Linked DNA regions of Homo sapiens. The protein of the gene in region 2 interacts with the protein of the main gene of each other region in a pairwise test. Each region holds a gene or a part of one and is shown on either strand. Other genes may lie near its edges. The genes, in order: CDKN2AIP, XRN2, CRY2 and CDKN2AIPNL.

Region 1 (7,918 bases), on a different chromosome or scaffold from region 2:
ATATGCTGCTAATGCATACCTTTTAATGTGTACTGTCATTCATAAATTATTTACAACTGCTACTGTGTGAAGAGAACTAGAATGTAAATTTTCTGCAAAACTGGAAAAAAAGCAATACAAAATTTGTGAAAGCCTGTGTTTTATACTATACAAAAGTCAGTTTTTCTCTTCAAATACCAGATATTGTATGCAGTGATATTTTGGACACATTATAGTAATTCTTGAGGATGTTTTAGTGCTGGAGGTAAGTTTACAGGCCTCGATTCTTCATCAAGGAGTACTAGATCTTCTATTTCACTGCCTCTGTATTTCCTTTTACATATTTTTACCACCACCTTTTTCTTGAGAAATAACTTCAATGCTTCTCTTGATGCAACTGCTTTTGCATTTTCTTTGCTTTTTCCACAGCCAGTGCCCAAATACACAGACTTGCACCTCAATTCACAAACAATACTTTCTTGAGAGCTCTTATTTTGAGGCAGATCTGCCAATTCTTTTAGTGGGACAAAAAATACATCCAGTGTTGCTTTCAGAGCCTCAATAGCTGCATTTAGGAGCTCTCCATGATTCACATTGGGACTAAAGCCACCAACAGCTACCAACTTCCATGCCACCGTTTTATATAGTCTATTGAAAAAAGGTTGCTTCTGTTTCACATCTTCATTGGTTAACTTGCAAGAGAATTTGACAGAACTCTCACTTGACTGTGAAGTACTTTTAGAAGGCAACTGTGAGGTGCTAGTCTGAGAACTACTCTTAGAAGCCAACTGGGACACACTTGCTAAGGAAGTGCTTTTGGAAACCAGAGATCCACTGGTCTGGGAGCTGCTCTTGGAAGCTAGTAGTGATGCAGCTACCTGGGAAGTGCTCTTGGAAGTTAGCAGCGATGTATTTGTTGAAGAGCTGCTCTTGGGAGTCAGTAAGGATGTGCCTGATGAGGAACTGTTTTTAGCAACTGATGATGAAACACTTGCCTCTGAACTAGTTTTGGAAGTTAACCCACTTGAAGCTGTCTCTGAACTAGGTTTGGAAGACAATAGTGGCAATTCTACCTCTGAGCTTCCTGAGGAGCCCAACAAGGGCACCTCGATCTCTGAGCTGCTTTGAGAAGCTGAGGCTGAAGAGCCTTCCAAAGCACTCTTTTTAGGTGATCCACTTTGTTGTCTAGAATCAGTGGATTGGGTCATGTGACTATTCACACTGGATTTCAGCAAGGAAACAAATGATGCAGAACCGTGTTTATCTGGAGCTTCTGCTTCAGAAGCTTTCCCAGATCCTGCCGTTGTTACCTGAGAGGAAACGCTGCTGCTGCTTTGGCTGGAAACAGATCGATCTCCATCACTTGTAGAGCTATTCTGACTGGAGATGCCAGAGCTCCGAGCTGAGTTCCCACTCTCTGATTTGATGGCCGACCCTATACACGTTGAACTGTTTTCCTGCTGAGCTGATGCACGTTCTGTCTTGGCAGAGGTTTTTGCGTGATCTTGCTCAACTGCAGAACTGTTTTTTCCTTCTATAACTCGTTTTTTGGATGGCTCTTCTACCCCTTCTAAAAAGAAGAAAAACATAGATATGTGACTAAGAATACCTCGTACAAAACGGGTGATGAGACAAATACACATTAAAATAAAGGCACAAAGTGAAAACATTTCAAGACTAATCGTTTCTTTAAAAAGTGTGGAGTCATTAATTTCTTAAAACAGTGTTGAATAACATCATGAATGTCTAATATTAAAAAAATAACAGCATCAGACAACAGTGGACACTTCAAAATCTAAAGCAGTCAAAGCAAACTATCAAATTCAAAGCCTAAAGACACAGATATATACTTTAGGTTTAACATTCCAACTTTATTACTTATTAATAACATAAAAATTCTGGCTTGTTAAAAAAATTAGTAACAATAATTCCTAATTATATCAAACTTATGCTCTAAACTCCTATGTATGTTCACATCTATGATCTGCTAACCATTGCTACTCGATATCCCTCTTTTCTTCACCTTGGCAACCAGTTCATCTCTTGTTGTATAGGTTGGAGCATCTGTCACTTTGATGCCTTCAGCCATACTAAGTATTTTATCCATAACTTTTTGAGGGTATCTGAAAAAGAAGGAAAAGTCATTTTTAAAAAGTGTTTTTTCTAAGGTCCTACTTGTGCAAAAAACAGGCCACAGGGACTGCATTTCCTGGCTGCAATCAAGAAAGTGAACCAACCGCCAAGAACTGTTTCCTGGAACCCCATAAACAAGTGCCCCAGGGTCTGGGAGGCAGGGCACCTCCTCACTAATCTTAAATCTCGCACCCGTCCCCAAGAGCGTTGTTCCCTAACACAAGCAACCCTACCAGCAGCTGCGCCCACACCACCGGGCACACAGACGTCCGGGAATCATGTCGGCTCCTCGCAGGGACGCCCTTCTCCCCCTTAGAGGGCAGCCGGGCCGGCGGATTCCCGCGCTTCACAACTTCCCCTCCCCGCCGAGGCCGGTCCCGCGGAGGGCGCCGGGCCCCGGTCTGCAGGTGGCACACAAAACGAGGCGTGCTGGTTAGGGACGCTGCCTCACTCACCGGCACCCGAGGAAGACGTGGTTCGCCCAGGCCATGGAAAAGGAGATGAGCTGCTGCAGCTGCCGGTTTCGGGTCCCGCTCTCGGCGTCGGCAGCTTCATCCGTGCTAGCGGAGGCAGCGCCGCCAGCGGGGGCCAGGTCCCCGGCGTTGCGAAGCAAAAAATCCCGGCGGTGGCGCCAGTGTTTGTCAGTCTCGCCGTCGCAGCGCAGCGCCTCCACCCAGGCTGCCACCCGCGGGTTCTGGCTCAGGTACTCCGACACCTCCTGCGCCATGTTGGGCCTGCAGGCCGCGAACACAGCTGCACCGGGAGACAGGCAGGACTAGCGGGGCGAGCGGCCCTGTCACTGCGGCCTGCACCCGCGGCCCTCCAGATAACGCCCCTCCGCAGGCCTAAAGACCAAACAACAGCGCCCAGAGCCGCCGAACCGCCCACTTCCGCCCACCGCCGGCTTCTTCCCTTTTATAACCTCGCCGCCGCCGCGCGCCCTCGCGTTCTTCCGGCGCGAGCCGGCGCTCCCAAGACGCTTTGCGGCGCCGGGGCCGCTGCGACGCTGCGTCCCCGTGAGGCCACGGAGGGCACCCCGGGGGTGAGGTGGGCGGGCGTCGGGCGTCTCCCGCCCCACGAGGGCGGACTGCAAGTCGAGCTGGCCTGGGACGACCGAGTCTCGGCGGAACCCCGGGCGTTCTGTCCTCGCTTTGTGACGCCGCGCGCTCCTGCCGTCCTCCTCCCCCGCCGGGTCAGCTGCGGCGCCGGGAGCAGAGGCGAGAGGGGCAGGGCCCGGGCAAGGGAGGCAGCCGGGCGCGGCGGCCAAAGTCCGCTAGGGGGGCGTCCCGGGGGACCTTGAGCCGCCCGCAGCCGCGGGGCCTGTGGTCTCCGCCCTGAGACGCCTGTGTGTGAGCGGGGCCAAAACAAACAAAAGCCGGCCTCCATGTTAGAGTGTTGGGAGCTGCGTCTCGCGCTGCTTTCAGTGTGCCCGAGCGAAGCGTTCCGAGGCCGTCGGGGTCTCCGCGCCTTCAGGAGGGCGGGAGTGCCAGTCCCCTTACATAGCAGCAGTAGACAGTAAGGTCACACGAGGACCTGGCTCCGTGTTGCCGTGAGGCTTGCAGCCTTCGAAGCTGGCCCTGGCCCCGCAGCGGTAGGGCTTGTTCCCGCAGTTTATTAGGTCTCTAGTTAATCCAGGCATTGCCTTCCTGTTCTGGTCAGTAGGAAAACAACACCCCGACAACGCTCTGTCTCTAGAATTTCCTAAAATCAACAGCTTTACCACCAACCGGCAGATGTCCGGAGGTGGAGTGGAAATGTACCTATTTATCTATAGGGCCCCAAACCTCTCTCCCTGTTAGAGCTGTTTTTTCCTTCTATATATTTTTTTCCACTTTACATTTCCCACAGTTACGTACTCTAACTGCTGGCTGGCTTATTGTTACGTTTCCCATTCCAGGTATACATGCACTGTAAGATAAATACGTTAAATGATATAAATTATGAAATTTTTCTTTCAATAAATGTAGACTTTGATGTAAAAATGCATGAATCAGAATAAGCAAGCAAAAAAAGGTCACTTTAGGTAAGATCAGATAAGGTTAACTGTGTAATTTATGTGCATGCTGGAACAAAATACAGCTATTGTATGAAAACAATATTGCCCATTTTCCTGCCATACCAAAAGAAACTACATAAAAACGGAGGCACAAAGAAATTTTGAAGCTTTGTGATTTTGCTTCTAGTTTGCTGTTCTTTCCTCCTTTTCACAGATAATTGCTGAAAATCTAGAGGGGGTGGACGGATTGCAGAAATCTGGCTATTTAAAAGGTGGAGAAATTACGATTTCTCCTTTCATGAATTCTTTGGCAAGGGGACCATGGCAAGTAAAAGAAGCTATGATCGCATACCTAGATTATATATGTGCATTTTAAATCAAGAATGTTCTCACGGCCAGGTGCAGTGGCTCACGCCTGTAATCCCAGCACCTTGGGAGGCCGAGGCGGACGAATCATGAGGTCAGGAGTTCGAGACCAGCCTGGCCAATGTAGTGAAACCCCATCTCTACTAAAAATACAAAAGTTAGCCAAGTGTGGTGGCACGTGCCTGTAGTCCCAGCTACTCTGTAGGCCGAGGCGGGAGAATCGCTTGAACTCAGGAGGCAGAGGTTGCAGTGAGCCGAGACCAAGCCATTGCACTCCAGCCTGGGTGACAGAGTGAGACTTCATCTCAAAAAATAATAATAATAATGTTCTCACTTTTTTTCTTGTTGCCCTGTAGTCTTCTTCCCACTCATGGGCTTCATTGCCTTGAAAGGAGAACAAGTAGAGCCTGAATTTCAAACAATTTTTTTAATTATAATAAAAGCGATAGAGTCTGAAAGATGGAGTACTTGTGCAAAAACCAGGTGCTTGGAATAAAAGATACATGCATTTTTCTTTTTTGATTCTTAAAAAGTTGACTTTGCATATAAAGATTCAAAGACTATGAACCACAAGTAGCTGGGACTGCAGGCGGGTACCACGACGACAGGCTAATTTTTTATTTTTTTGTAGAAACAAGGTTTCACTGTTGTCCAGGCTGGTTTTGAACTCCTAATATCAAGCAATTCTTCTGCCTCGGCCTCTCAAAGTGCTGGGATTATAGGCATGAGTCGCTGTGCCCGGCCTCATTTTTTTTTAAAGACCCTCCCACCTACAGAGACAAATTCCTCTCTAAGCTGGGGGAGACGTTCTGAGAGAAAAGGTGAGAGGAGAATTTAGGTGATAACTAGGAAAGTCTATGGGAGTAGGGAATAAGATGCAGGGTGGGAAGTGTTGGCTGTTAGAAATTGCTAGGTAGATTTTGGGTCTAAGAGCAGAAGGACTTGGCTCTGCCCGAGTTTCTGAGAGAAGACAGCCCAATCGTGCCCTGAGCCTGTATGCGTTGGCCTTTAGAAATGAACATAGAAAGGGCCTTTTATAGCTTTGATAACCAACTATACAACTCCCTCCTCTGCTCCTAACACACGTGTGTATATATATATACATATGTGTGTGTGTATATATACATAACACACACACACGCATTTACGCACATATATCTCACAGGGCCTAGAGGAGATCCAAAAGGTTCCCAAGAAAGAGTTGAATGGTGAAGTGCCTACCAAGCACCAGGGTCCAAGGTGAATGAGGCTAGGGGTGGTCAGCTTGTCAGCAAAGGGAGATGCAGCTAGTTTTCAGCAAGTCATCAGACCAGTGCCCGTCAGGCCGCATCAATAGGAGAGGACCCTCAACCTCTCCTGAAATGATCAGTGTGCATTGCTTGTGCTGGTAGATCAAGCAGTTATACTCCCAGCAGAGCCCACAGGGAAGAAAGCACAAGACAATGCTAGGATGATAACCAAGCCTCACCCCACCACTGCCCTCACTAGAAATCTACTCAGAGGAGAAAAGGGAGAGAATTCTAATGAATTGAGAAAGATCCACTATCATCCCAAATTGAGTTTCAAACAAGTGACTGAGTTCACAGGATTAAATTTTCTGCTGTAAGTGGAAGCCCATTCACTGAAACTGGTTCTGTAGCATATCTCTCTGAAGACATCCAATAAAAATTCCAGCGGCAAGCTGGCTTTTCTGCAGATGGCTTTCCCATGGAGCAACATGAAGGGATTGCCCCTGTTCCTGGATGTGACTGTGGAAGCAAGAAAGCCTTTGGCAGGAAGGTCTGCATGTGGAGAGGCTTGTGAGGAGCAAATACTCCAGTTATGGCCAAGGTTATGACTTGATGTGAGAAATACTTCATGGTGAGGGGAAATATTTTATGCTAATGATGTGTGAGGACACAAATCTGCCAAATTACAGTGATAAGGTGGGATGTTCTGAAAAAGTAAGAGAATGTTTTAAGAGTGATCCCCTCTGTTAGAAGCTTTGAGAAATCAAGTAGGATGAAGATAGGTAGTAACAGTCTGATTACGGACTGGAGCCACCTGTGAGCTTGGCAAAAGCCGTTTTTACTGCAGTGATGAAGACTCCATATCAGAGTGAGTTCAGGAGTCGGAAATGGAGATATTTGGCTGTAAAGGGGAGAAGATAGAGGAAGCTGGACAGGGTCATGGGGTCAAGGTGGCTTCAATTTCAGATGGGAGTAGCCTGAGCATGTTGCCCACTGCTTGAAGGCAACTCACAGAAAAGGAGAGTTTGAGGATCTGAAGAAAAAGAGGGTAATTAGCAATTTCTGCAGACATAGGTGTGGCTGGGATCCACACACAGGTGGAGAGATTAACCTTAGGTGGGCAGACACTTCCTCTGTTTTAAAAGAAGACGTTTGTAAGTTTGGAGCTGAGACGTTGACATGGAGGCCATCTGATGGTGCAGAGAATGCTCGCAATGGATATTTTAGAGGGCAGAAGAGCAGGCTGCCTAGATGAACATAGTCTTTTTGGCCAATTTAAAATTACAGGCTGGGCGTGGTGGCTCACACCTGTAATCCTAACACTTTGGGAGGCCAAGGTGGGCAGATTACTTGAGCCCAGGGGTTCAAGGCCAGCCTAGTCTACATGGCAAGACCCTGTCTCTACAAAAAATACAAAACATAGTTGGGTGTGTTGGTACATACCTCTAGTTCCAGCTACTCAAGAGGCTAAGGTGGGAGGATCACTTGAGCCCACGAGGTCGAGGTTGCAGTGAGTTGTGATCGCACCGCTGCACTCCAGCCTGGGCGATAAAGGGAGACTGTCTCAAAAATTAAAATAAAATAAAAATATAATGTGTGCACACAAAAATGAAACATCTAAGTAGAAAAAAAGAGGCATAAATGAAAGCAAACAATCTCCCTCACTCAACCTGGTCCCACTCTGTGGACATCAGCATTCATGTCATTTCTATCTTGATTTCTTTGGGTGATTATTTTCATAACTCCAAATTAAATGCTTATACTTCCATTTCTTATTTTTTCAACTTTAAGCAGTACTTATTTCACTCCTGAATGTTGAAGCTGAGAAATCCATATCATTTACACTACCCCTTTTTTCTCCTAATTTTTGTTATCTTTTATTGTTTTCCCGTTGGCTACCTGTCATAAATTCAAATATTATACTTAATCATCATTTTTAAATCTATCAACTTCAGGCAGGTAGCTCTTGATTTCCACATCATGTAAGAAAATTCTGGAGAGACCATATTACAGATATTTAGATATTCCCAAAATATGCGTTCAGGATAAAATCTAATCTCTAGTGATAAATCGACAGCAGATGGATAATTCTGAAGTTTTCCTACTTACCTGCAGGATTTATGCCATTGTTTTTACATTAAGCCTTAACATTAATAAATGTTAATAAATTTGTTTGCTGCTGTGAGGATTAAGTAGATTGCGAAGTTATATCTTT
Region 2 (7,018 bases):
GGTGAAACTCCGTCTCTACTAAAACTACAAAAATTAGCCGGGCGTGGTGGCGCGCCTGTAGTCCCAGCTACTCGGGAGGCTGAGGCAGGAGAACGGCTTGAACCCGGGAAGTGGAGGCTGCAGTGAGCCGATATCACACCACTGCACTCCTGCCTGGGTGACAGAGCTAGACTCCGTCTCAAAGAAGAAGAAAAAAAAAACACCTCGAATTCCATGCCTAGCTAATGATCATTCACGTGTATAAGGGTAGAATGGAGCTATTTTGGGTCCTACAATGACTCGGAAATCTCACATCCCACACAGCATTTCTTAAGAATTAAGAATAAGGAGGCCAAGGCAGGCGGATCAGAAGGTCAGGAGATCGAGACCATCCTGGCTAACACGGTGAAACCCCGTCTCTACTAAAAGTACAAAAAAATTAGCCAGGCGTGGTGGCGGGCGCCTGTAGTCCCAGCTACTTAGGAGGCTGAGGCAGGAGAATGGCGTGAACCCCGAAGGCGGAGCTTGCAGTGAGCCGAGATTGATTGAGCCACTGCACTCCAGCCTGGGAGACAGAGCGAGGCTCCGTCTCAAAAAAAAAAAAAAAAGAATTAAGAATAAAAACTAAGAAAACGATTTAAAGGAAGAAAGATGGGCCGGGCGCCGTGGCTCACACCTGTAATCCTAGCACAAGGGAGGCCCAGGGAGGCGGATCACGTGTGGTCAGGACAGAGACCAGCATAGCCAACATGGCAAAACCCCGTCTCTACTAAAAATCCAAAAAAAAAAAAAAAAAAAAAAAGGCCACGTATGGTGGCTCATGCCTGTAGTCTCAGCACTGTGGAGGCTGAGGCAGGCGGATCACCTGAGGTCAGGAGTTCGAGACCAGCCTGACCAACATGGCAAAACTCCGTCTCTACTAAAAAAAAATCAGCTGGGCGTGGCGGCGCACACCTGTAGTCCTAGCTGCTCTGGACGCTGTGGCAGAAGAATGGCTTGAACCCAGGAGGCCAGAGGTTGTAGTGAGCCGAGATCATGCCACCGTACTCCAGCCTAAGAGACATAGCGAGACTCCGTCTCTAAATAAATAAACAAATGAAGTAAGATGATGATCCAGAAAACAGTACCTCCCACTGAAGAAAGATATGATAGCAATAATAATAATAAAATCCCAGATGCAGCTTTCCAGCAAGCCTACAGAATAGCCAGGTGTGACAGCAACAAAAATAAATAAGACCCCAAGAAGGACTATTCAAGAAGAAAGATGACTCTTGATAGACTACCTGGTAAAATAGAGTCCGGGCGCGGCAAGATGTAAAGTGGAAAAAGAAAGACAGCCCCAGGGAAAAAGACAAAAGCAGCACAAAAAACAAAATCACAGTACATAACCTGAATCTACACAGTGTCAATAGTCAACTATCCTATCTGATTTTTCAGCATTTTAAATCTGTATAGTCAAAGCCCTGATCATTTAATTTTGGATGCCCACAACGCAAAAGTACAGCTGACAAACTTGAGGTGAAAGGGAAGAAAAGCTAAGATCGACCTTAGAAAGCATTGAGTCAAGGGATACGTTACACAGGCGATGGAATGAAAAAGGCAAATTACTTAGTTATAAAGCTTACCAATAAAAATATATATCTAGTGATTTACTCCATTAAGAGTATAGAGGGAGGGCTGAATAGGTGACTAAATCCTCTCCTATTCCAGCTAGAATTCAACAGATCTAAAAGTGATAACGTATAAGTATGATACTTAGAGACAGAACCAAAACAGTTAAAGGTGGAGAAATGGGATGAGAAGGGGTAGAGCAAGAACTGTTGCTTTTTGTTTAACCCACGTGCAAGTAAAGTTCAATAAAGTTCGATTAAAATTTTACAAAGGAAACAAGTATTCAATTTAGCAGTTGCTTTTTGAAAAAAACAAGAAATAGTGGGAATGTCACTAAGACAAGGCTTTTGGTTCCTCCTTGGATAGAAGCCAAGAAAGTTAAAAAAAAAAAAAAAAGCAGAAATAAGTTCACAGTGACAGGCAAGCACTGCCTTCAAAAACTAAGGAGTGAGGTACGCGTGATGTGCCTCTGAACGTTTCCAATCCAGAAATTCTAATTAAGAGCACAAAATCGAATCCGCATGGAATGACGAAAACAATAAAAACAAAACTCAATAATGGCCAAAAATCTACTTACGTATTAACTAACAACAAAAATTGTACTGCTCAAGTACATCCAGTAATCTTGAAATTTTCAACAAGCACCCACCCCGTTCAGTAGTCAGGGCACACAGAGAAGGGTAACTTCTCAGAATTCTATAGCGCTCATCCTGGACCTGACATACTGCTTTCAGCGTCCAATCTAACCAGAACAACAAATGGTCCTGAACACTAGGAGAAAACCTTTCCGGCACAATTGGTAAACAACGAAAAGGTCGCCGCCAGGGATTCCTTTACAAGGTTGTCAAAAAGCTGGCCTCCGAATCCGTGCATCCATAACCCGCTAGCTCAGCTGACCTGGCATGCATTGCTCAACAACAGCCTCTGAACCTCTTCCGAGACCCAAAATGCGCGGTCTGGAGAGGAAACAAAGCAGTGGGCGGGGCCTTCCGGTGCCGGGAAAAAGCGAGTAGGGGAGGAGCGACCCTCCTGCGAGTTCGGAACCCTATAGGCCCTTGCCCCGCCGAGGGTCCTGAATTCCTCGCCCCCGGGGTGCTGAATCCCACAGCCCGCGTCCCATCGCGTGTGGGGCTGCGACTGCTCGCGAGGCTGGCAGCAGGGCGCGAGCTCCGGCAAGGCTCCCCGGGGGCAGGCGGCGGAGCCCATGGGCCGCGGCCTAGACGTGCCGGGGGCCCGGGCTCGAGTGTGGCGGCCGCCTGGCGCCTCCTCACCTTCTCTTCCACGCAGTTGACTATGATGGACGGGTACTTGCGGCTGAGCCAGCGGAAGAACGCCGGGACTCCCATAGCGGCACACGGCTGGAGGCGGCGGCCGACCGGCTGACGAGCGTAACCAAAGAGACGGGAGCAGCGGCAGAGGGCACCAGCACTTCCTCCCACGTGCGCGCTGGAGAACGGAAGTGACGTCACGGCGCCGCCGCCGGGGAAGCTGGGAAGGAGGCTTCGCTGGATGAGGGAGCGGCGGAAAAGGGCCTTGCCGGGCTGTTTGTGGGAGGCGGAGTCCGGCGGCGGACCGGGTGGCGAAGGCTGCAGCTCGCCCTCGGTGGTCCCAGCCCCGGAGCGCGAGGCCGAGCGCGTCTGAGTTGCGGGGGCTCACGGGCGACTGCTCTGCCGGGGCTCCGCCGGGATCTCCCAGCCCCAGCCCTCCGGCTCCCTGGGCACAGAATCGCTGCGCTCTGCATGCCCGGGAGGAGGTCTCCCTTGCCCGTTTGGTCACCTCTTGTTTGGAAGAAAATGTCTTTTTTTGCCTCTATGCTCACCCGTCTCAATCTAGGGTAGAATCGAAGCATCCAAACTTACTCGTTACTTCCATTTCCTGGTTTCTCCTAGTTTTGTGCTGCAGTACGTACCTGGACTATCAAAAGGAGCATTTTAAAGCATTTTACAGTAATAATGGCTGCTTTGCACCAATAATTTGATTGTTATGCAAATAAATAATTATGATAGTTACCGAATGGAATCTAGCCGGTATTTAGCATCCAATACAATCTTCCAGCTACAATTACGGGTATAAAATAGTTGCTAATATGATTTTCCAGCATTTACTGAGCCTTTACAGTGTACCAAGACATTGACTAAGGGATTGTCCTATGTAATCTTCACTTGAACCTTGTGAGGGTACTGTTAGCACCCTCGTGTAAATGATAAGAAAGCCAAGTTACAGAGGAGTTAAGTCACTTATGCACATAGCTTCTGTTTCAGTTCAAGCAAAGGTCATTTTTAATCCATCCTTGTTCTAACACGATACTTTTATCTTTTGTTTTCTGGTGGTCCCAAACGAATTTTTTCCATATGAAAGGAGAGGTCTGGAAGAGGAGGTATATTTGTCCGTTTGCTCAAGCCTGGAAGTCTCCCTGAATCCCCTCTTGGTTTGACACACATCACACACGATGCTAAATGCTCACCTCATGAGGCCTCTGTGAAAGTATTTCGCCGAGTTACCTCACAGGCAGTATTTATTGCCCCCTCCTCTGTGGTCTGATGACTACTTTGTTTAAACTACTAGTGTGGAAATTAGAGAAATAGTCATCCCGTGTTTTACTTAAGGATAGCCAAAACTATTCCAAAGTATTATGTCTATGGTGAAATTCCTCCTTTTACCTGGAAGCAGCCCCTCTGGTTTCCCTGGGAGGTGCTGTTATAGGAACATGTACACCATAGGCAGTTCAGGGATAGACAGCTGGCCAAGTTGAGCCATTTAGAATCCTTAACCAGCATTTTGGCGGGTTGGGAGGGTTTATTGTTTTGTTTTTGTTTTTTCAGACGGAGTCTCAGTCATCCAGGCTGGAGTGCAGTGGCAAGATCCAGGCTCACTGCAACCTCCACCTCCCGGGTTCAAGCGATTCTCCTGCCTCAGCCTCCCGAGTAGCTGGGATTAGAGGCGCCTGCCATGACACCCCGCTGATTTTTGTGTTTTTAGTTGAGACAGGGTTTCACCATGTTGGCCAGGCTGGTCTCGAACTCCTAACCTCAGGTGATCTGCCCACCTCGGCCTTCCAGAGTGCTGGGATTACAGGTGTGAGCCACTGCACCCAGCCTTACCAGCATTTTTGAGCTTTGAACCATAAGAAATTTAAGACTGCATCTTTCCAGTGCGTGAACGCTAAAAGATAAGAATTGGGACTTGTTGCCAGTAGGCAATGAGAGAAGCAGGGTTAATTCCCTGGTTCCAGTTAAATCCCTCTCTTCCTGCAGTTTGATTAAGTCTGTCCTTTGATTCTGTGAGCCAAATTTTTTTTTTTTTTTTTTTTTAAGACAGAGTCTCACTCTGTTGCCAGGCTGGAGTGCAGTGGCACCATCTCGGTTCACTGCAACCTCCACCTCCCAGGTTCAAGCGATTCTCCTGCCTCAGCCTCCCAAGTAGCCGGGACTACCAATGTGCGCCACCACGCCCGGCTAATTTTTGTATTTTTAGTAGAGATGGGGTTTTACCATGTTGGCCAGGATGGTCTCAATCTCTTGACCTTGTGATCCGCCCGCCTTGGCCTCCCAAAGTGCTGGGATTCCAGGTGTGAGCCACCACTCCCAGCCAAAAGTTTCCTTTTGCCCTAAGCTGGCTTGGGCTAAATTCTTATCCCTTACAAAGGAAAGAGTCCAGTAACAAAATTTGGGGAGTGCAAGCTAATTCACCTGGGTGGTGAAATTGGTTTGCATAGAAGTACTAAAATTGGAGTTTTGGCACTCAGAGAAGGAGTGGGTAAAAGAGAGAAGAAACTTGAAAGGCGGCAGGAGGATATGGACTAAGTATTGTGACACTTTCCCTGGCCCAATGTGTCCAGTAAAGCCTGTCAGACTCAGGCTTGGTATGGGTTTTTCTTGTAGAAATCAAATAAAAAGTCTCCAGTTGGGGTCACTGTGGTTTGGAACCACCACGGGGTGGGCAACATAGCAGACCTCTAGAAGCAGAAGAGGTGAGAATTTATTAGTGTTGGAAATTAGCAGGGAGGCCAGGTGTGGTGGTTCACATCTGTAATCCTAGCAAATGGGGAGACTAAGACAGGAGGATCACTTGAGCCCAAGAGTTTAAGGCTGCAGTGAGCTATGATTGCACCACTGTGCTACAGCCTGGGTGACAGAGCGAGAAGCTATCTAAAAAAAAAAAAAAAAAAAAAAAGAAAATAAATTAGCAGAAATACTGAACCAGACTTTGGACTTATACAGGCAGAGAACCCAGAGGTTTTGAAACATTTTTGCCCAGATCTCAAAGGGAGAGAGGAAGGCCACAGCTAGTATCTGGATTACATTAATGTGAAAAACAATATGAAAAATATATAATATGTGGAAACTAGGATGTTTTTAAATATTCATCAATTCATTTTTAAGCCCCATTAACATTGTAATTATCATAGAAAAAAATTCTCAGTTTTTTTTTGCCTACTATTGGTCCTTCTACCAAGTGATTCCTTTCCTTCTTTATCCTTACAAAATTCATTGTGAATAACCTGATGTATTTAAAACAGTAATTGTGGCCATTTTGGGTTGAGATAAACATTTTTAATCAGTAGAGTAAAGCAGATTGCCCTCCATAATGTGAGTGGACCTCATTTCATCAGTTGAAGGCCTGAATAGAACAAAAAGTCTGGCCCCCAAGCAAGAGGGAATTCTCTAGCCAACTGCCTTGAGATGTAATCTGCCTCCTGAGTCCTGAATCTGCTGGCCTACACTGCAGATTTGGATTAGCCAGTCTGTATAGTTACGTGAGCCAAATCCTTATAATAAATGTCTTTGTATATGCCCACATGTTGATTCCATGTCTCTAGAGAACGCTGACAGCTACAGATTCTGGTACTAGAAGTGGTTCAAGCGGAACGGAATCTTAGGGATGCATTTTTGTAATTGGTTCTGAGGTTTCTGGAAGTGGTTCTCTAGTCTGATTAGATTAAAAACAGGAATGACTTTCCAGTAGTAAATAAAACACTTGATAGTCTATGGCATGATGAAGTAGTAGAATTACACAAAATATTACCAAAACTAAAAAGAAGCAGGATCTGGGTGACCATGCGTATGATACTTTATAACATATTTGCCAAAATAACAAGTATAATGAGATTGGTTGCCCCTAATGTTGCTGGACAAAGTGGGAAAAGAAAAGGATGAGCTCAGGGATTCAAATTCCCAGCTCAAGTATAACATAAGTGACCTGAAACTTTCTATTTCTGCCCTGAAAGAGACCCTTATCTCCTATAGCTGCAGAGCCAAGATTGTTAAAAATCAACTCCGAATCACATCCTGTAAGTGGCTGAATTAAAGTGCAGATTGAATTTTTGACTTTGCAGGTTGTCTACTTCTAAAGTGAGGGCATTGATTGGGAACGAATTGGATCCTGAAAGTTGGAATGGGGGCATATGGAAAGACCTTGATGGCACTGG
Region 3 (7,021 bases), on a different chromosome or scaffold from region 2:
GCTAATTTGTTTTTATTTAGAGATGAGGGCTTGTCATGTTGCCCAGGCTGGTTTTGAACTCCTAGGTTCAAGAGATCCTCCTGCCTTGGCCTCCCAAAGTGCTAAGATTACAGGTGTGAGTCACTGTGCCTGGCCTTAAAAAAAACTTTAATATGTTATTTAATTTTCTTTTAATCTGCACATTTTATGCCATTTTTTTCTTTTCCTTTCCATTGTTCTGGGAAAGAATCCAGGCCATCTGACTTGCCAAGATTCCCACAGTCTGGATTTTGCTGACTGTATACTCATGGTGCAGTTCAACAAGTGCTGTGTCCTGTGTATCACCTGCACATTGGTGGCTAGTACCAGAAACTGGACTGGACTCAGGTTTGATCCCTTTGACAAGACTACAGGGGGCACATAATGCTTGCCTCCTTCTATGGTGTCAGCAGTCACCAATACATAATGCATCATTATTGAGGGTTACAAAATGGTGGTATTCAAATTCCACCATTCCTTTTTAATTTAATAATCAGAATACTTTTATAGAGAGATGCTTGCCCTCATCTACTATTGAGTAACCCAGTGGTAAAGATCATGTAGCTTCCTCTGCTTTTCAGTAACAGCATCTCATATTCCTGTGGAGAATCAGCCTTCCCTGATCCTAGTCCGAGTGGATAAAGCAGAGCTAAACCTACCTTCCAGTTCTGGGAGCGGACTCATGATGCAAGTCTGGCCAGGGAAAGCACCACCTCCTATACCTGGCCACAGTCATTGAGTCAGGGACAGTCACATGACCCAAACCAGGACAATGAAAACATGCCTTGGGACTTTTCCTGGTGCTTTCGGAAAAGAGGCACATACCTTCTTCTATCTAGTATTGCTAAACTGGCATGAGTAGGTGCTCCCTTCAGATTTGGAGAACTGAAGGAAGCTAAAATAAACATCCTGAAATCAGGTTCAACTCCTGTATCTCTAGCACCATTTGTTCTCCCAGATGTGCAGGACACAGTATTTCCTCTGGGCACCACTGAGTCTGAATATGTCCATGGCGTAAGGGCCCTTGAGAGAAGGGGCCCGCTCTCTGGGGGTATGTGGAAAAGGAGCTCCTGTCGGTGACCTAAGGGACATCCTTCTACAAAATGTTCTCCAGCTGATAAAAACTAACCATAGATGATAGCTCTTTACAGGTTTAAGCCTTACTCTACTCCTGCAATCCCATTTGTCATCTCCACCCTTCTGCCCCTTGGCCCAACCTTTGTCTTCAAACTGGGCCCAAGAATCTCTAGGTGAACCTTTTGATGTGGACAGAGATAGCTAGTCTCATCCTTTAAGTCTGTGGGGCTTGCTTTCGTCCCAGGCTGAAGGAAACAACCAGGTAGAAACATCGAGGCTGTGGGCCTTCACTGTTGACTGGACACCTCCAGGGCTGGAGAACATTCTTCCCAAGTAGATTTGCCTTGGCCTCCTTGTTCTATTATCGTCATCATCTGGCTGCTAGGCAAAATACCTAGCCATCTTAGCAGGCATAGAAAAAGCTGACATTTTATAAACCAGCTGCAGGGGGCAGGAAACTAGGAGCTGACTGTTCTCGGACATGAGAACTTTCTCTGCTCCTCTAGCTGCAGGGGAGTGAGGACTTTGTGACACTGTGCCTCTGAGGCCTGGGCTTCTTTCCTCCCCAGTTCTCACTGCACTGGGAGGTGGGCCATTTGCTCTGTGTCCAAGCATATGGAAATCAACACGCTGAAAGAGTTCCAGCAAAAAGGTGCGGAGACACATCAACACAAAATAATCTTATAGATTTTACTAACCAGATATCCTCTTAGTAGGGGGAACCTGCCCACAGATGAAAGAAAAGCAATCCGACATAGCTTTAGAATAACATAGAACAAGGTCTTACTGTGTTATAAGGTGAGCATTCCTAATTCAAGAATCTAAAATCTGAAACACTTTTGGTCCCAAGCACTTTGGATAAGGGATACTCAACCTGTAATTACTAACTTTGTGACCTCAGGCAAGTTACTTAACCTCTCTAAGCCTCAATTTTGTAATCTGTAGAATGAACAGCTTAGTACCTACCTTGCAGGCTATTGGAAAGATTAAAAGAAATGCCAGCAGGTGCTTAACCCAGAAATGCTGAGCCTAGTGACCAGCACATGGTAAGTACTCTCTAAATGGTAGTTGCTGTTAGTGTTGCTGTTGTTATGGCCATCAGGAGGATAGGAGGATTTTTCATTTTCCAAACAATGTGAGCTAAGAGGGACTAAAGGACATGGACATGACCTGTATCTCCTGCTGTGTGGATATCAGTATCTGCAGCTCTGTGTCTCAGAAACGGCCCATACCTTCCGTTCCAAGTGCTTATCCAGGCGGGCCAGAGCTTCTGTCTCTCCTCCCTGCCAGACAGCTGGACCAAGTCCTTCAGTGGGGAACCCTGAAGAGAAGGAAAGGTCACAAGACAGGAGGTTTGACCATTTCAGTGATAGCCCGGCACGGCTGTTCTGTTATTTGAACTTTATGAGAATTGAACCACAGTGTCTCGGTGCTACTGGGGGTTAGATAATCCTTAAAGTTTTAGCGTTTTCTAGGTCAACTTGGTTCTCTTCCCACAGTCACTATTTTCTCTGCTTTCCCCTGCACCCTCATCGCTCCAGGTAGATGACAACAATCCCGGACCTCCTGCCTTTTCAGATTAGCTGGCAACAACTGTGGTTTTCAGGTGAAAAAGGCTAATAGCTTTGTTCAGATCAAAAGACTGGAGGTGTGGCTCACGTCTGTAATCCCAGCACTTTGGGAGGCCGATGTGGGTGGATCACTCGAGGTCACCAGTTCAAGACCAGCCTGGCCAACATGGTGAAACCCCGTCTCTACTAAAAATACAAATATTAGCTGGGCGTGATGGCAGGCGCCTGTAGTCCCAGCTACTCAGGAGGCTGGGGCAGCAGAATTGCTTGAACCCGGGAGGTGGAGGTTGCAGTGAGCCAAGACTGTGCCACTGCACTCCAGACTGGGCAACAGAGCCAGACTCCGTCTAAAAAAGAAAAAAAAAAGGTAAGAAAGAGGGAGGGGTGAAAGAGTGTAGTTAGTAATCTGAGAGGCTGACAGATTCCCTGCTTTCAACAGAAGCAATACTAGCTATCTTGTTACTGAGAAGCCCATGGACACCAGCACCAGGCAGTGCCTGTATTGTCTGCGAGAGGTTAGTACAAAAATAGAGGCATGATCTAGAACCAGAAACAGAAGATTACATGTATGAGTATGAACAGAACAAATACTAGAAGGACACAGTTTAAAATTAATTGTGGTTACCTCTGGGTGGTGGAGTAATAGTGACTGCCATTTCCATTTTTGTTTTCCTGTGCTTTCTAACCTTTCTATAATGACATGCATTACTTTCACAAAGAATTTCTTTACACAAAAGCAGGCACCAGCACAAGTGGCTCTGGGCAGGAAGTACGCACCCAGCTCCTCCAGGGAGGGCACGCCGTAGGTCTCGTCGTGGTTCTCCTGGATCTCGGCCCTGCAGCTCTCCATCTGCTGGCTGGTCACCAAGCCCACTGGCTTCTTGGGCAGCTCCATGCGGCTGATGATGGCCTGAAAGCGCTTGTATGTAAGGGGTGGCTTCTGCCCATTCAGCTCAATGATCCTGGGGAGCCCAAAGCATAGCTAGTGTTACCCACATGGCCCTGTGATGTGGGTCCCTGCCCACCCAAAAAAGAACCCAGACTCTGAAGGCTTTGAGGGTGGCTTTCCTCATCCACTCACAGGTCCCATGCCTGAGTGGAAAGGAGGGGGCAAGGGAGGCCGCATCTCCATTTTACCGAGAGGGAAAATAAAGCCCAGAGAGCTGAAGCAGGTGCCTCAGTAATGGAGCAAGGCAGGGCCAGAGCTGGGACTCAATTCCGGGCTCCCTGGTGTTGACGCAGAGCCGCCTAAAGACAGAGACTGACAAAATCTCTAATCACAGAAAAATCCCTACTAGCCTGCTTGGCACTTGGCCTATCTGTCCAAGCTAAGGGAATCCCCATAGGCCTCTACCACCCATGTAAGCCCTGGAGAAAGTTCTTTGATAAGAGCTGAAGACATGTTTTTTTTTTTTTTTTTTTTAACTCTAACATCATAAGGAATAGCAGACATGTTCCTTTCTTGGAAAATCATCCCCTTCTTAGCCTCCATTTATTAGAACATTGAACAGAGAGGTGGAAGACAGCTTATCCTCCCAAATTCAGAGACTGGAGCTAGAGTTCATAGCCACAACTGATACTTAAAGAGAGTCTTGTAGTTTACAAAGTATTTTTCATGACCAGGGAAAACATAACTGCACTCATGCAAGAAGGAAGGAGTATCAGAGGGCGAAGAAGAGAACGGAGGCTGTTTATATAAGGATGAATTGGGATGGTATGGAGCCACATTCCCGGGGCTCTTCTTGGCCAAGAAGTAGCTTACGCAAGGCCCATCTGGCTGGGTGAGTTCATTTCTCAGTTTGCTCTCCCCACGTTAGTGGAGATATATGGTCGGCTGCTGCCTCTGCTATGCCTCCCTCTCCTCTGGCACGCAGCAGGAGGAGGATCTCCACACCCAGCCTCTCCTCCTGAGGGCCCGGCTCACGTGCACAGCTGTGTGACCTGGCTTCTTGGCAGCCAGCACTGGGTTGGGAAGTGGGGGTGGGGAGCGGCGGCGGCTGCTGGCTTGGCAGCAGCAGCAACAGCAGCAGCAGCAGCAGGAGGGTGACAGCTCTGGCATGGCAGGGAAGGGGAGGAGAGGATTTCCTCCTAGAATCTCTGAAAGCACAGAGGCTGTCACCAGGGGAGGAGGCTCCTCTGTAGTTAGCAGCTCCCTGCAGGGATCTCTAGAGCCCTCCCCGCCACCAAGCAACATGGCCTGGAAACCCAGATAGTCATAGAACCTGGGAACTCTTTTTTTTTTTTTTTTGACACAGGATCTTGCTCTGTCACCCAGGCTGGAGTGACGTGGCATGATCACAGCTCATGGCAGCCTCAAGCCCCTGGGCTCAAGTGATCCTCCAACCTCAGCCTCTTCAGTAATTGGGACTACAGGCATGTCCCACCATGCATGGCTAATATATTTATTTTTAGTAGAGACGGGGGTCTCACTATGTTGCCCAGGCTGATCTTGAACTCATGGACTCATGTGATCCTCTCAAAGTGCTGGGATTACAGGCATGAGCCAGCATGCCCAGCCTAGGAACTCATCTTAGGTACAAAAACTGGACCTGTGTGAACAGAGGTCTGTTGGAGGGGTAACAGACAGGGTCCACTGAGGTCAGAGGGCAGCTGTTGAGCAGGATGGAAGTGGGAATATGAGGCACAGGTGGGACTCGGGCATACTAGGAGCAGATTTGTAAATACCCTGAGTGTGGGTCCTCACTGCTTCCATGCTTTGGGCCTAACAAGCCTCTCTGCCACCTCAATGGGGTAAAGCTCTTTGTGACCTGTTCTACAGGTCCTGACTCTGGCCTATTCTCCTCCAGCTTCTAGAAGATGCCATGCCTCCTGGGTCAGGTAGCCCTAATGCTGAACCTCTCTGAGTTCCGCTCAGCAGGGGCCCAAATTACTAACTCTCACAATTGGTAACCTGATCCCTGGGCCCCATCTCTTACCTGTCCAGGTCATAGAGGGTATGAGAATTCTCCGTCACTACTTCCACACCAGCCTCCTTGGCCATCTTCATGATGGCTGCATCCCGTTCTTTCCCAAAGGGTTCAGAGTCATATTCAAAGGTCAAGCGGGTCACTCCCCATTCCTGTGGGGAGAGGATCTGTTATGCTCAACACTGTGTTTGGGGAGGAGGGGGAAGCTGGACTCTCAGTTCCTTCCTGGGAGAGAACAGAGCTAGTCTAGAGACCTATCTGATGGGCAGCAGAAAAAACTAGGAACAGGGATTTGATCTGGAAAGCAAACAAGCTGAGGTTCAGAAAGTTTGAGGAGGGCAGGCAGTGTGGCGAAGCCAACAGCACAGCAACAGTGGAGTTGGGAGAGAGGTAGGCAGCCTTGTGCACTTGCTGTGTCCTTGAGGTAGGAGAATGCAGCAGGAGGCCATAAATACAACGCTCCTGGGAAACCCCCAGTCCCAGAGAGTGGCACTGACTCACAGGTGGGACAGGACCACAGCCTTCTGCCTGCTCAGCAAGCTTTTCCCAGAGCTCCTCACAGCCCTGCAGACTTGTGGCCTAGTTTTCTTGGCAGAGTTGTGCTATGTGAAGTGTCTTAATTGTTTCCACAGCAACACTCCTGAGGCCAATAGCAAACAGAGCTAATAGGTTCCAGCCCTGAGAGAGTCAGGAAAGGGGAAGCGATCCTTAGTCTGGAGGTCAGAGGAAACTGACCAGAGGGGCTACATGTTGAAAAGGAGGAAGTTCTTTCCTAAGCCTTTAGTCATTTCTGGTAGGAATTTCTAGATCTCATAGCAAGCTGGCCCAGTGAATGGTTGTACAGTCAACCCACAGAAAGCCCTAGAGCATGCAACTTGCAAGAAGAAAAACACATTCTCCAAAGTCTCTGGTCATAGTCTCTGAAAGCTCTGAACCACAGGGGCAAATGTCCTAGCCATGCACAGGCTGGTCTGGTCCTGACTCAGCCCTGCCCGGGGACTGGGTCCTTAGCAGGGCCAGTTATCCCTCATTCGAGGATATCAGCATTAAACATTGATTGAGCCCTTGCTATATGCCAGGTACCATGCTTATAGTTCATATAGGTTACATCACTGAATACTCATTGTAACCTGTGAATAACAATATTATTAAATTACATTTTCTCCAAGAAGCCTTCTTGACCTCCTCCTTCAATATAATTCTTCTGCACCTTGTCTTTTTTCCACTGCAGCATGTATTATATGACAATGATACACTTGCCTGTTTCCCCTATTAGTGTGAACTCTCAGAGCAGAAACCATGTTGTCTCACTCATCATCATTACCCTTATACCTAGTATGGGGCCTAGTACCTAGCAGAAGCTCAATAAAAATACATTACATGACTGAATGGATGACCTAGCTATATCTCTGGGATATAAGTGGGTTG
Region 4 (7,920 bases), on a different chromosome or scaffold from region 2:
CAAACCATCCTGAAAATCAAGTGGGGTGTACTATTTGGGACTGAAATACTTTATGAGCAACTGAGAATCTGATTAGTTCCTTGACACCCATATGGAAGAGGACCTCTATATGTGCCCCACCTCCCAAGACAAGACCTAAATGTGGAGGAATGGGCTTACCTATGTTTCTAAGGGCAGACCTAAAAAGGGGCCAGCAGCTTTTTACTCTACTGCTTCAGTCGATTTTATAAGTATTTTCTGAGTACCTTCTCTGGGGTATAAGTATACTAGGTTTGGGAGTTGTAAAGACTAAATAGAACTTTAGACACCATCTGTAAGGTCACAACTGCTTTAAAAGAGCCCTGGATAAAGTGCCAAAGGAACTTCAGAAGATAAGCGAGCAATTAATTCTGCTGCCTGAGCAGACAAATGTGAAACAAGCATGTTTTGGAGGTGATTCTGAAAAGTATTAATAGCTGGGATGCCCAGCTCCATATTCTGAGGTTCTTTCTGCCACATTCTGTAGCCCCAGCTCCAGTGTCCAGATTCAAGACTCTAGGCAAGACTCACTGTAAAAAGCCCATCGCCTGAGATCAGACCCCAAAGGGTAGAGAACAGCTATGCCATCGACATTGCTCCAGGCACGTTCTTATCAGCAAATCACAGAAGCCAAACAAGTCAGGTCGGCACTCACACCGGCACTCACACCTGGGGTAAGGATGAGTCTTACCAATGAGATTTTTTAACAAGTAGGAAACTTAAGTATTCTAGCCAACATCTTTTTAAACATCAAGCAAAAATCTCAAAACAATGTTCCTAAACAACCGGAAGAGGTTAAGCTTATGTGTTACCTCATCAACAATGCATAATTTACCACAGTGAGTTGTCAACTATTTATGAAAAGGCTTATACCAATTATGGGGAAATAAAAATGAAAGGGTATAGGTCTTTGGGGCAGTAAAGAGCATTCAAAAACAATATACTCTAATATAGTGTCATCAAGGCAGGGACTGTTAACTCTACACCATTTCATCACATGCACTTGGAAATCCTATTTACCTTTTTCATTAATTCACTTCTGGTAGTAAATTGTGGCAGGTCTTCCACTTCAATCCCATCGGCCATTTCCATCACCTTGTCTAAAAGGTCTTTATTGTAACTGCACAATAAAAAGTAGTAAGGTAAAAACCTTGGAACAATTGTCACTGTGGATTAATAAGAAACTGCAGGTTGCTCAACTATAAAATCAGCTCTCAGAGAACTGACCTGATACTGCAGGGCAAACCTATACATGTTCCCCACAAGGTTTTGAGATGGAGTCTTGCTCTGTCCCCCAGGTTGGAGTGCAGTGGTGTGATCTCGGCTCACTGCAACCTCCACCTCCCAGGTTCAAGCAATTCTCCTGCCTCAGCCTCCCGAGTAGCTGGGATTACAGGCGTGTGCCACCACGCCTGGCTAATTTTTTATTTTTAGTAGAGACAGGGTTTCACCATGTTGGCCAGGCTGGTCTCCAACTCCTGACCTCAAGTGATCCTCCTCCCAAAGTGCTAGGATTACTGGCGTGAGACACCGTGCCTGGCCCTGTGAACACTTCTTGCTTGTAGATACAGAAGTGGACTTCAGAAATACCAGTACAGCAGATGTTTCAAGATTTAGAAGAACAGAGGCACTGTACATCCAGCAACAGATATTCTCAGATACAGGATGAGGACCAAAATATTTTTATTTTTTAAATACATGGAATGTTAGTCTAACAAAAACATTATTTATTTCCCCAATTCTCTGACATTTGCCTAACCATGGAAAACCAGGATTTCCCAGGAGCACCTAGAAGGCAGGGAAAAGGGACGGGTGCCTCTGGCATTGCTTCCCTACGTACTGTTCTAATAAACCCCAATATGTGAAGCAAAACCAAGTGGCTTAGGCCTGCAGGGGCCAAATGACCAGAGTCAGGCAGCCATAATAGGTATAGAAACCAAGATCAAACCAAGTCACCCTATTTTCCTAACACAATTTCAGGAAAATCGAAGCTCTCTAATAGGGAGTCTCAAGATTTGCCACCTTCCTCATGGAGGGGTGAAAGGAATGCCTTATCAGGCACTTCAAAAGCGGGCCTTTGTCCTTTTGGTGCTGCAGCCAGGATGAAGTGGGCTTTGAGACCTTCACAAAAAGGCATCGGCCATTTTCATAAGAGGGAAAGCAGAGAGGTGAAGCTGGTTCCTACTTAGGACCCCGTGGGCTGTGGAGTGAGGAGAAAAAGCCATAGGATACAGATTACATCCTCTCATTAGTGATTAAAATCCATCAATCCTGCCAGAAGCTGCATGGCCCCAGGTATATCACTTCTCTCCCTAAGCTTTTTCATCTGTAAAATGGGGATCTCCGTTTCTCTCTCTGCACGTTTGCCATGTAGGTGACAGGGGCTAACGGACTTCGAATGCATACTGCAAAGGTGATGGTTTGAGCTAATAATAATAGTAATACAAATAACAATAGCAACCTTTGAACCCGCCATGTATTTAGCTCTTCACCCTTTAATTATTACAGCCATCATAACCACCCTTTTACCAGAAGAGAAAACTGAGGCTCAAAGATAAGGATCTTTCCAAGGGGCCTCCAGGGTGGGAATCAGTCTTCGGGCCGACCAATGCGGATGGAGGTTGGGCCCGGGTTCAGTCTGGGGCAGAGGTTCGGGTCAGGGGTGAGCCCTGGGAGAGGCCTTGAGGGTCGGAAGATAGGGGACAGGATCAGCCGGCCGGCAGGGGTCCGCACCTGCAGCCTAGGAAGAGATGGTTGGCCCAGACCATGGAGAGGGAGAGCAGCTGGTCCAGGCGGCCACTGCCGTCGGGCGGGTCGCGGTAGTCGGGCAGGTGGCGCAGGATGAATTCCATGCGGGCCTTCCATTGCTTCTCGCTCTCTGAGTAGGAGCGGAACTGCTCCGCGAAGTCGGCCGCCTGCCGCACCCCCGAAACCAGCTCCTCCACTGCGGCAGCCGCCTCGCCACCGACCATGGTGCCCGCCGCAGCCGAGGACCGGATAGCCCGCCGCCTTCCCGACGCGCACTGCGCCACCGCCTGCCGGCCAGAGGGGCCCCATCAGCGCACGACTGCTCCAGAAGACCAACCTGGAGCGCCCTCGCCCGGAGCGGCGGCCTGCGGGGGCACAGAGCGGCTCCTGGCTCCTCAGACCGCCGCAGCCCGTGGCTCCTGCCCTGGGTCTACCCAGGGCTACAAGGGTCTTTTGCGGTCGACCCTGCGGGGAACCGGTGGGAAAACTGAGGTCCCTAAACACAGATTCGGAGCGCCCTCTTCCAGTTGGCAGCTGGATGCCAGCCAGAGCTATGCTGTGCCCTTGCCCTGAGAGTTTCCCGGGCACCGCCTCATCCTGAGCGACATCAGGGGGCCCGGGTCACGGTCGACTTCCAGGGGTCTCCACAGCCACGAAGGTTGGGGCCCGCCTTCCTGGAGCGAGTAATCCATCCATCCCGTGAATACTTGCCAGGCACATTGCTAGGTGCTGGAGAGGCAATGAGAGCACATTCGGAGCCCTGCTCGCCTGAACTTTACCATGGAGTGGAGGAGTGGACATTAGTGACATAATTGCTCAAGTAAATGGAGAATTTCAGCGTTGACAAGTATTAGTAAAGAGAAGTTCAGCGTGCTACAACCATGAATAAGCAAGGGACCCAATCTAGTCTTGGGGTCAGGGAAGTGATCCTGGAGAAGTGAAGAATGAGCAGTTTTCTGAGTAAAGGGGAGTCGGTCAAAGCAAGAGAGAGCATGGCCTGGTAAGAGAATTGCAAGATAGGGGGTAGGAGGGGTTGGGGGGCGGGGCAGGGCAGGTAGAGAATGGAGAAGATGAAGTTGCAGAGGTCAGCAAGGCCAGTAGGCCAGGCAGGGATCCTGGCTAGATCCCAAGAATGGGGAGCCGCTGAAGGATTTTAACCAGAACAGTGACACCTGTGTTTACAAAAGATGCTGGAAGGAGCCAGAAACAATGTGTCCAGAGGAAATGAGCAAGTTTGGACTTGGTTTTAAATAGAGACAGGGTTTCGCCATGTTGCCCAGGCTGGTCTCGAACTCCTGAGCTCAAGTGATCCGTCTCCCTCAGCCTCCCAAAATGCTGGGATTACAGGTATGAGCCATCGTAACTGGCTGGACCTGAAAGTTTTTATTTAGCTGGCATGACTCTGCTGTCTGTTCGAGTCTCAGGTAGCAGACACACTGAGAGAAAAAAGAGCTTCCTTTTAAGTGGTGAATTTTCCATCCCTGGAAGCATTCAACTACAGTAACTGGGTGTTGGGGCTCAGAAACCAACACCCCAAAATGTATTTTGACATGCTGAACTGATGAAGAAGCCTCAAGGTCTCTGTGACCTCCGCCACCAACACACACTCCTGTCTGTCAATTCTTTGTTCCTCCCAAAGCACAAGATGAAGTTGTTCCCTTATCTGCCTAAATTTAGTCCAGAACGCCAAAGGAAACAATTATCTCTGGTTCCCTCCCTGAGTTTTCATTAAGTGAATTTGTTTTGCAGGAGGAAAGACTGAAGTATGGTCAACACACTAGGACAGACTTTTGTCACAAACCCTTGTCTCCTCTGCAGGCCCAACAGACTTTGTCCCAGGCCATTGCATGTTCTTCAAGCCCATTGAATTACCCTAAAAATCATTTACTACCCATCTAAAATATTCACACTCTGGATGATGGGGTAATCACTCTGTGATTAACTATGCACATTAATAAACTTGTATGTCTTTTCTCTTTTTTTTTTTTTTTTGAGAGCAAATTTCACTCTTTTTGCCCAGGCTGGAGTGCAATGGTGTGATCTCTGCTCACCGCAACTTCTGCCTCCCAGGTTCAAGTGATTCTCCTGCCTCAGCCTCCTGAGTAGCTGGGATTACAGGCACCTGACATCACGCCCGGCTAATTTTGTATCTTTAGTAGAAACGGGGTTTCACCATGTTGACCAGGCTGGTCTCGAACCCCTGATCTCAGGTGGTCCAAGCTCCTCGGCCTCCCAAAATGATGGGATTATAGGCGTGAGCCACAGTGCCTGGCTGCCTTTTCTCCTCTTAATCTGCCTTTTGTCAATTGATTTTCACTAACCTTCAGAGAGCAAAGGAAAGTTTTCCCTTCACACAAAGAGTCACTTGAGCCTTCACCAGCTTTGAGAGATTATTGACCTAATAGGCTTCCCCATTGCCCCCAGTCAAATGTGAGGTTGGGGTACAGAGGTGAGCCTAGAATCCACGATCTAGGGCTCCAGTGCAGGTCCTGTATTGTGAGTGTGGCCTGTGGGGAGAGCTGATTACATCCTGTCTGCTGCTTCTGCAGCTTCTTTTGGGGCATCAGGGTCCCCAGAAATCAGAGACTCAACAAAGCATGGAAATACAGGGCAGTCCGCATAGAATGAACCTGAAGACCCAGCACCAAGCTCAGTGATATGGCATAATGGTTAACAACAGGGAGGCATGATATTCATGCAAATGTGGGCAAGCAAAGTGTCAACAGGCCTGTGAGACCAAAGACAGAGTTAGCTACTCCCAGCAATCAGGAATTGGTGCACAGACCTAAAAGTCCCAAAAGTGAGTGCAGATCCCACGTCCTGAGAGGCTCGTTAAAATGACAGACTCCCCCAGGCTCACCATTGGATGTTCAGATTCAAGGCCCCAGGTAATTCTGCTTCCACCTGCCGCTGACCAAACTTAGAAAAACTCAAAGTTAGACTGGGAGTGGTGGCTCATGCCTGCAATCCCAGCACTTTGGGAGGCCGAGGCGGGCAGATCACGAGGTCAGGAGATCGAGACCATCCTGGCTAACACGGTGAAACCCCGTCTCTACTAAAAATACAAAAAATAACCAGGCGTGGTGGTGGGCACCTGTAATCCCAGCTGCTTGGGAGGCTGAGGCAGGAGAATGGCGTGAACCCAGGAGGCAGAGGTTGCAGTGAGCTGAGATCGCACCAATGCACTCCAGCCTGGGTGACAGAGTGAGACTCCGTCTCAAAAAAAGAAAAACTCAAAGTTGTTGAGGGTTCTCTGAGCTAAAGTCTTGGTCACCTGATTGTATAGTACAGAGGTTAGCTCAGAAAGTCTTGGTCACCTGATTGTATAGTACAGAGGTTAGCTCAGAAATAGGAACCCAGGCTCTGCAAATAGCAGCTGCAGTTACACAGCCAATCCTGCCTATGGGGTGTGAAAAAGCTAAAGGTCATGCAGCAACTACCTTATTTAGCATATCTGTGACAATTATGGAGCATATGCATATACATAACATACGGACGAACATATTCAGACATGCATACAATTGTAAACCCAAAAGTGCACAAATAGGTATTCTTTTTTTTTTTTTTAATACAGAATCTTGCTCTGCCATACAGGCTGGAGTGCAGTGCCACATCATGGCTGACTGCAGCCTTGACCTCCCAGGTTCAAGAAATCCTCCCACCTCAGCCTCCATGAGTAGCTGGGACTACAGGTGTGTGCCACAATGCCTGGCTAATTTTTAAGTTTTTCATAGAGTTGGGATCTTGCTATGTTATCCAGGCTGGTCTCAAACTCCCGGGCTCAAGTGATCCTCTTGCCTCAGCCTCCCAAGGTGCTAGGATTACAGGCATGAGCCACTACACCTGGCCAGGTATTCTTTCTTTAAAAAAAAATTGTGATGTTGTTAACATTATGCTTTCAAAATGCTAAGCAGTATAAAATATTGGCCAGGCACAGTGGCTCACAGGCCTGTAATCCCAGCACTTTGGGAGGCTGAGGCAGGCGGATCACCTGAGGTCAGGAGTTCGAGACCAGCTTGGCCAACATAGCGAAACCCTGTCTCTACTAAAAATACAAAATTAGCCAGGTGTGGTAGCACGTACCTGTAATCCCAGCTACTCAGGAGGCTGAGGCAGAAGAATCGCTTGAACCTGAGAGGCAGAGGTTCCAGTGAGCTGAGATCGCACGATTGCACTGTAGCCTGGGCAACAGAGCAAGACTGTCTCAAAAAAAAAAATTGTTAATGGCCACACACAGTGAGACCCTCATCTCTACAAACAATTACAAAATTAGCTGGGCATGGTGGTATACACCTATAGTTCCAGCTGCTTGGGAGGCTGAAACAGGATGATCGGTTGAGCCCAGGAGTTCAAAGCTGCAGTGAGCTATAGTAGCAACACTGCATTTCTGCCTGGGAGACAGAGAAAGACCTTGTCTCAAAAACAAACAAACAAAAAAGTTAATAATTAACACTTCACAGAACAATGTGGCAAGTCCAGTTATTGACCAGTTTGTTGTTTCTAACTTTTTTTCATGATTCAGACTTTTTTTTTTGAGACAGATTCTCACTCTGTTGCCCAGGCTGTAGTGCAGTGGCGTGATCTCAGCTCACTGCAACCTCCGCCTCCCAGGTTCAAGCGATTCCCGTGCCTCAGCATTCCAAGTAGCTGGGACTACAGGGACTTGCCAGCACGCCTGGCTAATTTTTGTATTTTTAGTAGAGACGGGGGTTTCACCGTGTTAGCCAGACTGGTCTCGAATTCCTGACCTCGGGTGATCTTCCCGCCTCAGCCTCCCAAAGTGCTGGGATTATAGGTGTGAGCCACCGTGCCCAGCTGTGTTTAACTTTTTGAACAAACTGTTTTCCACAGTGTCTGAACTACTCTCCACAGTGCTACTGGTAATGCATGAGGGTTCCAACTTCCTCACATTCTTGCCAACACTTAGTATTTTCCCTTTTTTAATTTTTAAATTATAGCCATCCTAGGGGGTACAAAGTGATACCTCATTGTTGTTTTGATTTGCATTTTTCTAATAAGTAATGATCCTGAGCATCTTTCTTGTGCTTATTGGCCGTGTGTATATCTTTTTGGGGACATGTCTATTCAGATCGCTTGCCCCCTTTTTTTCCTCTTTCTTTTTTCCCTTTGTTAGAGTTAATTTTTTGTTTATGA

What was found.
Region 1: the proteins of XRN2 (region 2) and CDKN2AIP interact in binary tests that used the Homo sapiens proteins (3 or more experiments, as listed by UniProt).
Region 3: the proteins of XRN2 (region 2) and CRY2 interact in binary tests that used the Homo sapiens proteins (3 or more experiments, as listed by UniProt).
Region 4: the proteins of XRN2 (region 2) and CDKN2AIPNL interact in binary tests that used the Homo sapiens proteins (3 or more experiments, as listed by UniProt).

The regions. Positions count from the first base shown.
Region 1 is NC_000004.12:183,439,719-183,447,636, reverse strand, and holds the start of CDKN2AIP (CDKN2A-interacting protein), read right to left. Parts: upstream 3,002-7,918; 5' UTR 2,840-3,001; coding exon 2,568-2,839; intron 2,103-2,567; coding exon 1,972-2,102; intron 1,550-1,971; coding exon 210-1,549; 3' UTR 1-209. UniProt on the Homo sapiens protein: Regulates DNA damage response in a dose-dependent manner through a number of signaling pathways involved in cell proliferation, apoptosis and senescence.
Region 2 is NC_000020.11:21,299,317-21,306,334, reverse strand, and holds the start of XRN2 (5'-3' exoribonuclease 2), read right to left. Parts: upstream 3,005-7,018; 5' UTR 2,937-3,004; coding exon 2,862-2,936; intron 2,838-2,861; exon of another isoform or gene 2,797-2,837; coding exon of another isoform or gene 2,488-2,796; intron 1-2,487. UniProt on the Homo sapiens protein: Possesses 5'->3' exoribonuclease activity. May promote the termination of transcription by RNA polymerase II.
Region 3 is NC_000011.10:45,857,455-45,864,475, reverse strand, and holds part of CRY2 (cryptochrome-2), read right to left. Parts: intron 5,746-7,021; coding exon 5,603-5,745; intron 3,629-5,602; coding exon 3,444-3,628; intron 2,417-3,443; coding exon 2,328-2,416; intron 1-2,327. UniProt on the Homo sapiens protein: Transcriptional repressor which forms a core component of the circadian clock.
Region 4 is NC_000005.10:134,408,865-134,416,784, forward strand, and holds the start of CDKN2AIPNL (CDKN2AIP N-terminal-like protein), read right to left. Parts: upstream 3,018-7,920; 5' UTR 2,991-3,017; coding exon 2,752-2,990; intron 1,139-2,751; coding exon 1,039-1,138; intron 1-1,038.